2 linked regions of the Homo sapiens genome follow. The protein of the gene in region 1 purifies or fractionates together with the protein of each later gene. This does not show direct contact. Each region holds a gene or a part of one and is shown in the gene's direction. Other genes may lie near its edges.

Region 1 (6,837 bases):
TTTAAATTCATTCAGTTGACTCAATCTCTCTCAGCTAATAGTTCAAATATACATGTTGACAATTCCATGAGCAGCCATGAAAGCTTTATATAAGGTATATACTGACTTGATCCATATCTAATTTTATAAATAAACATACCCACAGTATGTACATTTCATATACCTAAACTAGATTTATTTCTTCCTTCCTCCCTTCCTCCCTTCCTTTCTTTCTTTCTGTTCTGGGGTACATGTGCAGAACTTGGATATTTGTTACAAAATGTGGAGGTCTGACACAGAGTCTTGCTTGGTCACCCAGGCTGGAGTGCAGTGGTGCAACCTCGGCTCACTGCAACCTCCACCTCCCAGGTTCAAGCGATTCTCCTGCCTCAGCCTCCTGAGTAGCTGAGATTACAGGTGTCTGCCACCACACCTGGCTAATATCCGTATTTTTAGTAGAGACGGTTTCACCATGTTGGCCAGCCTGGTCTCGAACTCCTGAACTTCAGTGATCCACCTGCCTTGGCCTCCCAAAGTGCTGGGATTACAAGCGTGAGCCAACGTGCCTGGCCTAGATTTCTTTTTGTTAAAATCAGTTTTATTGAGGTATGGTTTATATGCAGTACAATTTGCCCTATTTAGTTTTATAGCTCTATGAATTTTGACAATGTACATAAGTCATATACCGGTACCACAGTCAAGATACAGAATATTTCTGTCACCCTCAACAGTTCCTTGTCTTCCTTTGTAGTCAACCCCCTCCCCTCATTTCCAGCCCCTAGAACTGATAGGATTTCTGTGCCTTCTGTTTTGCCTTTTCCATTATGTCACATATAAATGGAATCATACAGAGTCATGGAGTCAGTCTTATTTTGTTCAGCCTAATGCTTTTAGGTTCATCCATGTTGTCACATATATCAGAAATTCAGACCTTTTTTGTTGCTGAGTAGCATTCCATTATATGGATATACTATACCATTCCATTACATGGATTTATCCATTCACACATTGATGGACATTATTTGGGTTTTCAATATTTGGTGAATGATAAAACTGCTATATATATTTGCATAGAAGTTTTAAAATAGACACATATCTTCATTTCTCTTGGGTAAATGCCTAGGAATGGGATTACTGGATCATGTGATAAGTGTATGTTTATAGAAACTGCTAAACTATCTTCCGAAGTGGCTAAACTTTTGCATTCCCACCAGCAATATATGAGAGTTGTAGTCGCTCCATGTTCTCATCAACACTTGGTATTATTGGTGGTTTTTGTTTTGTTTTGTTGTGGTGGTGTCACATTAATTTGCATTTCCCTATTGAGTATTGATGTTGAGATATTTTCATGTACTTTTTTTGCCATCTGTATGACTTCTTTAGTGAAGTGTCTATTCAGATTTGACCATTTAAAAAACTGGATTGTTTTCCTATTTTTGAGTTGTGAAAGTGCTTTATGTAGTCTGGATAGCAGTGTGTGGACTTATTTTAATCCTCATAATCTGTGTGGTAGATACTATTAGGCTAAATGATAGATAAATAAGTTATGATGCAGGATTGTTAAGTAATTGCCCAAGATTACATAGCTAATAGGTAGCAGAGCTGGGATTGAAACCCAAGTAGATTGACTAGAACCTGTGTCAAACTGTTTGCCTTTTTTTTTCTCTTTGATCCTCTCATATGCAGAGATTGACTTATTGGGGCTGTAAATAGAACAAGGATCCAGTTCCTGTAGGTGATAGAATAATGCTAATAGGGATACCCCTGGGCAGAGGGATAATATATTGTAATGGCAGCTCTGGAGTCATCTCCTTAGGAACAGCTAAGATATTTGTTTCTGTTGAAGAGGTGTAATTATTTTCCCTTTAATTCTCTTCACATTACTGGTGGCCAGAGTACTTCCTTTAAATTATGTTTGGAATATTTGCCATTATTAAGTAATGAGGTGCATTATATAAATGGATTTTCTCAATAGCAGAAGCTTATCCTTTTAGATACCTGTTCTACATAAAACATCTCACACACTTGATGTTACACACTTTGGCTTTCGAAGGCCTGTCTTAAACTAATGCTGACTTGGAGACACTTAGTGTATGGTAATATACTTAGGGAATATTACAACTTACTGACCTTATATAATGGCTTCATATCTGAATACTTTTAAAGTTATGTTTATTTTTAGTTTTGTAAGGTGGGTTTTTTTAATGTCATTATCAGCTATTTCACTTTTTCTGACATCCTTTTATAATACTGTTGCCCTCTTTTACCTGTTACAGTTTTTATTTCTAATTAGCCAAAAGAAGATAATCAAATTGTTAGGTTTACATTCATGTTATCTAAAATAAATTTCAGATATGGAAAATTACCTGGGGGGAACTTTCCAGGGAACAAGTGAATCTCCCGTGACTGCTCAGCGGACCTTGTTTCTTGGTGCATGGGCTCTGAATAGTCATTTTGTGTAAGTGAACTAAAGTAAGCTAAATATGACATTTGACAGGAGAAAACATGGTCTATATTTCTTTTTAATAAATTTTTAATTAACAGTTTGTAAAACCATGGAGATTATTTTTCAGTAAAAGGATAAACCAAGCAATCTTCAGTGTAAGGAATAAATAGACAGCAGGCAGAAAGTTGGTTCACAATCATTGCTGTTTTGCAGCATTTTGTAAAGTTCCTAAGTCAGTGACAGCTTGTGCTCTCAACTATGCCTCTGGTAAGCCAGAATAAACTCCCAACTAATTAACTAAAGGGAGAAAACCTTGCTAAATCCTATTTACTTTTTGTAAGATACCAGGACGAAGGCTATCTATTGAGTTGCATTTATCATTTCAAGCGCTTTGGAAGTACTTAGTGCTTTCAAGCCATTTTGATTAATTTAAGCTCTTAGAATAAATTAATAAGTATTCACCCAGAGGCCAGAATAAGTAGGTGTAGTAATATTTCAGTGGCTTGGGCACTTTGTCAGATGTATTCTGACTTGGAAGGCAGAGCTTCACTGGCCACAGTTGTCCCCTTAGGTTGGCCTTGCCACAATTGCAGTGGAGCTGTAGCAGGGTGCCTGGCACAAGAGGCTTGAAATACATGTAGAAAATTTTGCTTGAAAGGTAAGTCAAACTGTAGCTATCATTTGGAAGTAGTAGAGTTATGAACTATGATCGTACCAATACTTTTTTAAAAGGGTTTTATCAAGCTTGCAGTTTATTTAAAATCATTTTGCTTTGTTGGACTTTAAATTCCTAACATTGGAGTGTGGGTTTTTAAAAATTCTGTAAACCAGTTTAATTCACACTTATTTTTCCACTGAACTTTGAATTTTCTAGTGGATTTTATCTGTTTAGTGAACTTACAGATCTGCATCTGGCTTTGTAGTTTGCTAGCCTTTCCAGACTACATAGCAATATATCTCTTTCATATGAGGGTTAATGAGTAGCCAGATTACACTCACCAGTCCATTGTTACATTAAGAGCCACAGAGTTTGCTATCTCCCTTCCATCCCCTTTCATACTTTTTTCCTTTCACAGTTTTATTTGATATAGTAAAGCAACTTTTAAAAATTGAGATTTTTATATTTTAAAACAATATATAGTTTTTAATTTTGCTCCCTTGTAGGTTCTTACTCTATTTTATTGTTAGTTTTAAATTATGGCAATTAATATGAGCTTAGTAATGGTCTAATCAAGGTAGATCTTGCTCCTTGCCTCTTCATCCCCACTTTCCTATACCGTTTTTACCTGCAGATTTGCATGTTTGACCTAGCAGAATAATTGGGTCCACAGCAACATGGGCGTGCCTCCCTTAGAAACACTTGGTTTCATGTATGACTCATAAGCTGAAGCACAGACACCACTTCCCCAATCTACAGGAGCCATTTTAACAGCTAAAACTTGTCGGATTGCTTTTTATTTTCAAGCTCAAAAGACGATAGAGAAAGAATACTTGAAGGTAACTTGTTACAATTTTGTATGTTTGCTTCTGGCTTTTTCTTGAGCTGATAAACAGAGGGTGGTTCTTACCTGTTGAAGAACATGGCTGAATGTGTTCTTTAACCCTCTGATAAAATGTGTGTGGTCAGTCACATGCCTGATTGAACTTAATTGCTAGGGGGAAACAAAGCACTGAAATTCTGGAAAGTTTTAGATCTTCTTGCTAAAGCATTTTGTATGTCTTTGTGATTTTTTTTCTATGTAATTTAAGAATAAAAGAGGTTTTTTGTTTGTTTATTTGTTTTTAAGTACCACAAAGCAAACTAAGGTCAAATTTTAATTTAAAAAACCTAATTGTATTTTTTGGGGTAGTTGAAGTTACAGTTAAGTAAACCGTATTATTCCTGTGTGATATAGATGTTAAATATCCAGGGGCAGTGGCTTTGTTTTGGCATTTTAGCTAAGGGTGAAGTTTTGGGACAACTCAGCCATAGGTGTTGCTCATTGACTGTTATTTATTTATTTTTTTCTCCCTCTCTGTTTTTTAAAGTTAATGAAATTATATTAAATGTTTCATTTTGGAAACCCAATGGAAATTTAAATGAATTGTTATTTAGATAATAAGTAAAAATGAATATTAGATTATTTAGATAACAAGTAAAAGTGAATATTAAATAGAGGAAGAAAGACTAGAATGATTCATTTACTATTAGAAAAAAATGAAGTTTTATAATTCACACTGAAAACTTGTTCTGAGTAACAACCTTAGAAGTAAAGCTGTCTTCTAAGGAAACGTAGTTATTTCAATTTTGTGTAAAAAGAAAAAGTGATGAGTATTGGCCTTCCTTTTGTATTACTGTTCTTAAAATTTGCCTGCCTTGAATTAAAAACCTTCTGTAAATGAAAAGATTGCTCAGTCTTTTCCTGAAGTACTTGTCATTGTAGTTATGAGATTTTGGCTGGCAAGTATACATCCTACTGTGCCTTAAAGTTCTAGGTGCTCTGTAAAGATGAGTGCAGTAGTATTTTATTTCTGAAACATATTTATGAAGATAAAATTGGAATATGCAGTGATTCCAAAAAATAAAGTTTTTGGATATAAAACTTGCCAAATCATTTCTTGTTGACCAAAATGATATTTAGCTAGTTCTTTGAGAATTTGCTATGCACTTACTAAGTGCTTGAAGGCCTGTCAGATTAAAGGGAAGAGACAAAGGCAATCAGTTATTATTTCTTACTCTTTTGTAAGGATTGTTGATATTAACAGATCTCAATTTTGCGGTCTTACAAGAAAGACACAGCGGACATTTTACCAATTCAGCTGAGCCATTTGCTATCATCTTTGTTTGCATATTGCTGGTTTAGTCAGCCTTTGAGTAAGCAAAAGCTGTATTTACTTCTAGTCTGGTCTGTGTGAAAAATCTAATGAAGACTTTTCTATTTTTTTTTTTAACTTTTTTAAGGTGGTGATCCATAAGAGAAAAATCAAGAGGCACACAAATAAGCGGCATAATTAAGATCTTATTTATTAAAGAGAAGTAGAGGAATTTGGTTTCTTAAATTTAAGAAGCTGGTACAGTTAAAGTAGTATAGATATTGTTTATGTATTTTCTTACGTGATAGAGACTGAAGTGGAGTTTCAAGGAGAAGGGAGAAGGGGGGGTAAAAAGAAGAGAACCAAGAAAAGACCAGAACAATTTATTAAGTATTTCCCTCTCCACGTTTTTCCTTCCATAAGATTGAATGTAAGTTTGAACTGACCCATCAGAATTAAATTTAGAATTAGTGATTTATAGAACTTTAGTGCTGAAAGTGACTGAAGATTGTCCAACTGCCTCACTTTTATAGATGAAGAAACAGTGGCCCACAGAGGTCCTGTGATTTGCTTGAGGTCATGCAGTACCTAATGGCAGGGCTTCGCAGTCTGGAACTGCTTGTGCCAGTCACAAGTGATGCTTTGTTTGAAATGCTCTATATTTCCTTAAGAGTAAATAAAACCTTAATTAAGATGTTTGGTGATAATCTTGGTGATAAGTTGCAACCAAATGGATCAACCAATGATTTTGAAAATGTAGTTTTCTTTTTCATCAGAAAGATGATGCATTCATTTTATTTCTACAACAACTTTTTGTTTTTCACTGTTAGAATTTTTTTGTTCATGACTGCTTATTTTAAGATGGCTTTAGATGGAAATATGAAGAGGTGGGAATTAAATTTGAGCTTCTAGATACAAAGACAGTTTTATTTCTGCTTTAGTTTTAGCTCATATATATATATATATATATATATATATATATATTTTTTTTTTTTTTTTTTTTTTTTTTTTTTTTTTGAGACGGAGTTTCACTCTTGTTGCCCATGCTGGAGTGCAATGGTGCAATCTCGGCTCACTGCAACTTCCGTCTCCCGGGTTCAAGCAATTCTCCTGCCTCAGCCTCCCAAGTAGCTGGGATTACAGGCATGCGCCACCACGCCCAGCTAATTTTGTATTTTTAGTAGAGACAGGGTTTCTCCATGTTGGTTAGGCTGGTCCTGAACTCCCGACCTTGGGTGATCCGCTCACCTCGGCCTCCCAAAGTCCTGTGATTACAGGCACAAGCCACCGTGCCCATCCTTGCCTCATATTCTTTTAGGAGGGCAAATATTGTTTAATGTGATACCTTGTTATACTAAAATATGTGTATGTGTAAAACTTTGCATGTGACTTTACAAAATCCAGAGGTGTCTAAGCTTTAACATTACACTTATCTTAAATTTGACCTTATTATAAGATAGTAATCTCATTTTATTTATCTTTGTCACATCTTCTCCTCCTCCTTTGAAATAAGAGAATTGTTTGGTATATACAAAATCTTTTGTCTGTTAACTTTTTGGTGTGTTTTATTGGGGTGGTTGGAAATTCTCTAGGTCTGAAATTCAGATTTTTAATGGTTT
Region 2 (7,028 bases), on another chromosome or scaffold:
ATCTGTCCTTTTTTTTGGTGGCTGCAGGGTATGCCATTGTGTGGCTGTCCAGTACCATTACTGGAGTTCCGTGCTGGGAGCCATTTGCAGGGTACGTCCCCTCAGCTCCTGCTGCCCGAGGCGGTGGTGCCACTGCCCTTCCCAGGACAGGAGGGGATGGACTCGCTCGCCCTCTGTGGAGCCACTCCAAAGTGGTTCCTTGTTACAGTCTACCAGAGTGGCACATTTATTACAATCGATGAACCTACATGGACACCTCATTGTCACCCAGAGTCCATAGTTGACACTGGGGCGCACTCTTGATGCTGTATGTACTATGGGTTTGGACAACTGTATCATGACATGGATCCATACTGTAGTATTCTACAGAGGAATCTCGCTGCCCTACAAATCCTCTGTGCTCCCGCTAGTCATCCCACCCCTGAGCTTTTTACTGTCTCCATAGTTTTGCCTTTTCCAGAATGTCATATGCTTGGAACCATGCAATCTGCAGCCTTTTCCGACTGGCTTCTTTGGCTTAGTAATCTGCTTTTAAGGTTCTTCCATGTCTTTTCTTGGCTTGATAGCTCATTTCTTTTTAGCGCTGAATAAGCGTAACTTTTTTAAGGGAGATGTGTGGGCTGCAGTGATGACTTTGGCTTTCTTTCCAAAAATGACGGCAGCCATACTGTGATCCCTGCCCCCAACTGCTGCACAGAGAAGAGGGTGAATGCGGCGAGGGTGGGTGGAAGGTGGGCGGTGAGCTGGGGGGTTATGGTGATAACCTAGGCAAGAGATCAAGGTTGTGGTAGGGAGCAGTGGTTCTCAAACAGGGACAATCGTGTCCTCCACAGGACATTTAGACAAATGTCTGGAGACATTTTTAGTTGTCGCAGCTGGGAGAGAGGGACTATTGGCATCTACTGGGTAGAGGCCAGGGATGCTGCTCAACATCCTGCAATGCACAGGACGGGCCTCCCAACCCAGAATGATCTGGCCCCAGATACCAACCGTGCCCAGGTGGAGAAACCCTGGCGTAAAGGGGACAGGTCTCTCCTGGGTACATTTTGAAGGTAGAGCTGACAGGCCTTGCTTACAGATTGAATGAGAGGAGTCTTTGTGTTTTCCAGTCCATGCATGCCTGTTCTTTTTTCTTTCTTTAATTAAATAACATCTGGCTGGGCGTGGTGACTCATGCCTATAATCTCAACATTTTGGGAGGCCGAGACAGGTGGATCACTTGAAGCCAGGAGCTCAAGACCAGCCTGGCCAACATGGTGACACCCTGTCTCTACTAAAAATACCAAAAAATTAGCCAGGCATGGTGGGGCATGCCTGTAATCTCGGCTACTCGGTAGGTTGAGGCATAAAAATTGCTTGAACCCGAGAGACGTATGTCGCAGTGAGCCAACTGCCACTGCACTCCAGCCTGGGCGACAGAGCGAGACTCTGTCTCAAAAATGAAATAAAATAAACTAAAATAAATAAATATGTAACCCAATATGTCCAAACTATTATAATTTCAATGTGTAATTAATATGGACTATTAATGAGACACTGTATTTTTTGTCATGCTAAGTCTTCAAAACCTAGTGTGTGCATTTTACAAATGAAGCACATCGCAACATGCTGAGTTTTCAGGGGTAGTGTGGAGTGCGCCAGAGCAACAACGTTGTGTGTGTTTTTCTTTTTTTGGTTTTCTTTTTGTGTGTGTGTGAGATGGAGTTTCGCTCTTTTTGCTCAGGCTGGAGTGTAATGGCGCAATCTCGGCTCACTGCAACCTCCACCTCCCGGGTTCAAATGATTCTCCTGCCTCAGCCTCCCTAGTAGCTGGGATTACAGACGCACGCCACCACGCCCAGCTAATTTTGTATTTTTAGTAGAGACGGGGTTTCACCATGTTGGTCAGGCTGGTCTCGAACTCCTGACCTCAAGTGATCTGCCCACCTCGGCCTCCCAAAGTGCTGGGATTACAGGCATGAGCCACCGCGCCCAGCCAACGTTGTGTTTAATGGAAAATATTTTACACTGCTTCAGTTTTTCACCTTAAGTTTAAATGAATGGAACTTAAATGAAATGAACAACTCTTTTCCTTAGTTGCACTGGCCACATATCAGGTGTTTAGTGGCCACAAGCTACTAGCAGCTTCTGTCCTTCTTGGCCAGCACAGGCCTAGAGCCTACCCAGGAGGGGGCACCTTACTGGAGGTGCACTCCAAAGGTCAGTTCTCATCCTGCTGGGAGTCCTTCCAGAGTTCTCATTGCCCTCTGGATAAAGGTCATGCATGCTGTGTAGCCTGGCTCTTTAGGCCTCAGTTTCCTCATCTGTAAAATAGAATTCTGAAAGCACACACTTCCAGGATAATTGTGAGGATTAAAAGATGTTGCGGACTGGGGACGGTGGCTCACGCCTGTAATCCCAGCACCTTGGGAGGCTGAGGCAGGTGGATTATGAGGTCTGGAGTTCAATACCAGCCTGGCCAACATGGCAAAACCCTGTCTCTACTCAAAATACAAAAATTAGCTGGGTGTAGTGGTGCATACCTGTAATCCCAGCTACTCGGGAGTCTGAGGCAGGAGAATAGCTTGAGCCTGGGAAGCAGAGGTTGCAGTGAGCCAAAATGGTGCCACTGCACTCTAGCCTGGATGATAGAGCAAGACTCTGTCTCAAAAAAAAAAAAAAGAGAGAGATGACACAGCCGGGCGCAATGGCTCATGCCTGTAATCCCAGCACTTTGGGAGGCCCAGGCAGGTGGATCACTTTAGGTCAGGAGCTTGAGACCAACCTGGCCAACATGGTGAAACCCTGTCTCTACTATATATACAAAAATTAGCCGGGTGTGGTGGCAGGTTACTATAATCCCAGCTACTTGGGGGGCTGAGGCTGAAGAATAGTTTGAACCTGCGAGCGGAGGTTACAGTGAGCCAAGATTGCTCCACTGCACACTCCAGCCTGGGCAACAGAACGAGAGTCCATCTCAAAATGAAATAAATAAGTAAATAAATAAAATAAAAAAATTAAAAAAGATGATGCTTCCATCAATGGAGGAATGGATAAAATATGGTATATCCATACAATGGAATGTTATTCAGCCATGAAAAAGAATGAAGTGCTGATACCACTTACGACATGAATGAACCTGGAAAACATCATGCTGAGTGAAAGCAGTCAGACACAAAAGGTCACGTATTTTATGGACACATTTATATTAAATGTCTGGGACAGGTAAATCCATAAAGGAAGAAAGTATATCTGTGGTTGCAGGGGCCAGAGGGAAGGGAAATTGGGAATGACTGCTCATAGGTTTCCTTTGGGGGGTGATGAAAATTTCCTAGAGTTAGTGGTGATGGTTATACAACCCTGTGAATATCTTTAAAAGGCTGAACTGTGTGGATTGTGAATTATATCTCAAAAGCATACTTCAAAAAAAGATAATGCTTGCATATGCAGGCCCATGGCAAGGGATGATAGTGGTTGGTGGTGATGATGGTGACGATGATTGACGATAATTATATTGTTAATGGTAGTGATGATGATGGCGGTGATGGTGATGTGGTGGTGATGGTGATAGTGATGGTGATAGTGATGGTGATGTTGGTGATGTCATGGTGATGATGGTGGTGGTGATGGTGGTGGTGGTGATGGTGATAGTGATGGTGGTGGTGGTGAGGATGGTGGTGATGGTGATGGTGGTGAGGATGAGAATGGTGATGATGATGATTGTGATGGTGGTGAAGATAGTGGTGATGGTGGTGATGATGATGTTGGTGATGGTGGTTGTGATGATGTTGGTGATGGTGCTTGTGATGACAGTGGTGGTGGTGGTGACTGCAAGCTCAGGACCTTTCCCCCTCTCCCAGGTCTGGTCCGAGAGCAGGAGGCTGGGCTGCTGCAGTTCCTCCGCCTGGACGGCTTCTCTGTGTTGATGAGGGCCATGCAGCAGCAGGTGCAGAAGCTCAAGGTCAAATCAGCATTCCTGCTGCAGAACCTGCTGGTGGGCCACCCTGAACACAAAGGTGTGGCAGCCCTTGAGTGAGGGCAGGAGTGGGGAGCAGACGCCCTGGGGTGGGTGCAGGTGTGGGAGAAGGGGAGGAACAGGCATCCCGGGGAGGGCATAGGAGATGGGTGGGGCTGCCCCTCTGACCCCTGCAGCCCTCCCCCCAGGGACCCTGTGCTCCATGGGGATGGTCCAGCAGCTGGTGGCCCTGGTGCGGACAGAGCACAGCCCCTTCCACGAGCACGTGCTTGGAGCCCTGTGCAGGTACTTTGGCTCCTTGAGAGGACGGGGCCTGGGGTGGGGGCCCCGTCCTCTCAAGGTGGGGGTGGCTCAGGAATCAGCCCGTAGGGACTCAGGAGTTGGGACCTTCCCGTAGAGAGGAAGGGTGTGGGGCCAGAAAGGAGCAGGAGTCAGGGAGCCTCAGTTTCCTCACCAGTAGGGCTGGCACAGAGGCCTTGCAGGAGGGAGAGAGGCTTCTGTACACGCCCCCACCAGTGGATTAGTGTCTAATCAGATGATGCTGGAGCTCTCAACAGCACACCAGAGTTGACACGCACCAGGCCCTGTGCTGAGCCCCTCAGCACCCACCCTGGGCCAGGGGCAGCGTGAGGTCCATTCCGCAGATGGGGAAATGGAGGCCCATTGTGGGGCAGCGACTTGCCAGGCTCCTGAGTGAGCCAGGGGACGGGGCGGGCGATAGGGTTGGGTCAGTGAGGCCTCTAGAGGGAGGTCCTAAGGGCCGCTGTCATGTCCCTCACAGCCTGGTGACAGACTTTCCGCAGGGTGTGCGCGAGTGTCGGGAGCCGGAACTGGGCCTGGAGGAGCTCCTCCGCCACCGCTGTCAGCTGCTGCAGCAGCATGAGGAGTACCAGGTACATGGGGAGGGGACGGGGTGCAAGGAGGACCAGGTGCAAGGGGGAGGGGACAAGGGCTCCAGGAGGACTAGGTGTGTGGGGAGGGGATGGGGTTCGAGGAGGATCAGGTGCCAGGGGGAGGGGACAGGGGCTCCAGGAGGACCAGGTACACGGGGAGGTGACGGGGTGCAAGGAGGACTAGGTGTGAGGGGCAGGGGATGGGGTTCGAGGAGGATCGTGTGCCGGGGGAGGGGACAGCGGCTCCAGAAGGACCAGGTGAGTTGGGGAAGGGACAGGGTGTGAGGAGGACCAGGTGTGAGGGGGAGGGGCCTGGGGGGTGAGGAATTCCCCAGGTTAGACCAAGTGTGGTAGTGGGGACCCTAGTAGGGGCAGAGCCAGCCAGTCCTTGCCCTTGGGGGCTCCTGGGTCCGCTGGTTCAGGCTTTCATTCGTGTTCTCGTGCATTTCACTTATCTTCCATTCAGCAGATGTTTATTTCATGCCTAGCATTCGTCCCGTGCTGTGTCAGAGTAGGAGAGACAGCAAGGAGACAGGAGCTTGGAGATTCTTAAAGTGTTGCCCAATCATTGAATTATTATCTAAATTACCCAATACAGTTGTTTTACATTAAGTAAATGTAAATTGAATATAATATCACTCAAATGTCTTAATGATTTAACTATTTCATTAAATTGACAAGAAATAACAAATGGCAAAAAATAACCAATTATTTTGGGTAAATAACAAGTGATAAATAACAAGTCATCAGATATTTAATTAGATAAGGGGCAAATAAATAACTCATTAGATAACTAGATAAGTAACAAATGCTAAATCACAACTAATTAAAATTCAAATAGTTAACTGATTAAGTAATGCATTAATTTGTTGAAGTGAATGAATCAATGCTGGTGCTTCAGCAAAGCCGAGCTTAGCAAACGCACCCACCTCCTTGGGACGTTATATTCTATTAGATTCATTCCTGTGTAGACACTGTCAAGTGTCTGTATGTATTGAAAGTGTACTACATGGCCAGGCATGGTGGCTCACGCCTGTAATCCCAGCACTTTGGGAGGCCGAGGCAGGCAAATCATGAGGTCAGGAGTTCGAGACCAGCCTGGCCAACATGGTAAAACCCCATCTCTACTAAAAATACAAAAAATTAGCTGGGCATAGTGGCAGGTGCTTGTAATCCCAGCTACCCAGGAGGCTGAGGCAGGAGAATCGCTTGAACCGGGGAGGCGGAGGTTGCAGTGAGCCAAGATGCGCCACTGCACTCCAGCCTGGGCGACAGAGTGAGACTCCATCTCAAAAAAAAAAAAAAAAAAAGTGTACTACATGAGAAGTTTTGACTTATGTATACACCCGTGGAAACATTCAAATTAGATTTGTAACAGATTTTACTAATGCTTTGTGAATAGGTTCCGTAGTCACATGGTTGAAAATACAAGACCCGCAGGAGGGTAAACAGTGAAAAGTCTCTCTCCTGCCCCTCCTTCTGGCTACCCAGTTGCTCAGGTGTCCTTCTTAAAATATTAGGTACACACGAGCAAAGGTGCATGTGAATTCTCCTTTTTCTCTATGTTATGCAAAATAAGCCTGCCGTGCTGTGATGGCTGTTCTGCCCCTTGCTTTGTGGGCATTGCATGTCTCGCCTGTGGCTCTTTCATTTTGCAGCTGTACAGTGCGGATGGGCTCTTTTTTGTAGCATGGATATGCAGGTTGTTTCTACACTCTCGCTATGACAAACACTGCTGAAAGAATAACCTTTTGTATATGTTATTACATATGTCTGTAGAACAATTTCTAGAAGGGAAATGGCTGGGGTCAGGTATGTTAAAGGTGAAGGTTAAAGGGTTAAGGGCCGTTTCATTAGCTATCACCAAGCTGCTCTCCATAGAAGTTCAACCATTGACACTCCAGTCATGAGGGTGCCCAACTCCCCAAATCTTGGTCAGGACAAAGTGGCCTCGATGAACCATTTGACCTTTTTTCAAACTGATTGTTGAAAAGTAGTACTCCAGTCCAGTTTACATTTCTCCCATGAGTGAAATTTGGCATCTTTTCTCTTTCTTGTGAACTGTTCGTTCTCATCCTTTGCCCACTTATCTATTTATTGGGTGATGGTTTTTGCGAATGACTTTTTTAAGCTCTTTAAGAGTTAAGTATATTAGCCATTTGTGCTATGAATCACAAATA

What was found. The genes of interacting proteins can lie anywhere in the genome.
Region 2: the proteins of ELF1 (region 1) and HSPBP1 purify together in Homo sapiens (affinity purification with mass spectrometry; 2 studies listed by BioGRID and IntAct, with this or other methods). This does not show direct contact.

Annotation. Positions count from the first base shown.
Region 1 is NC_000013.11:41,016,313-41,023,149, reverse strand, and holds the start of ELF1 (ETS-related transcription factor Elf-1), read left to right. Parts: upstream 1-3,833; 5' UTR 3,834-3,922; intron 3,923-6,837.
Region 2 is NC_000019.10:55,263,098-55,270,125, reverse strand, and holds part of HSPBP1 (hsp70-binding protein 1), read left to right. Parts: intron 1-3,839; coding exon 3,840-3,995; intron 3,996-4,143; coding exon 4,144-4,240; intron 4,241-4,736; coding exon 4,737-4,848; intron 4,849-7,028. UniProt on the Homo sapiens protein: Inhibits HSPA1A chaperone activity by changing the conformation of the ATP-binding domain of HSPA1A and interfering with ATP binding. Interferes with ubiquitination mediated by STUB1 and inhibits chaperone-assisted degradation of immature CFTR.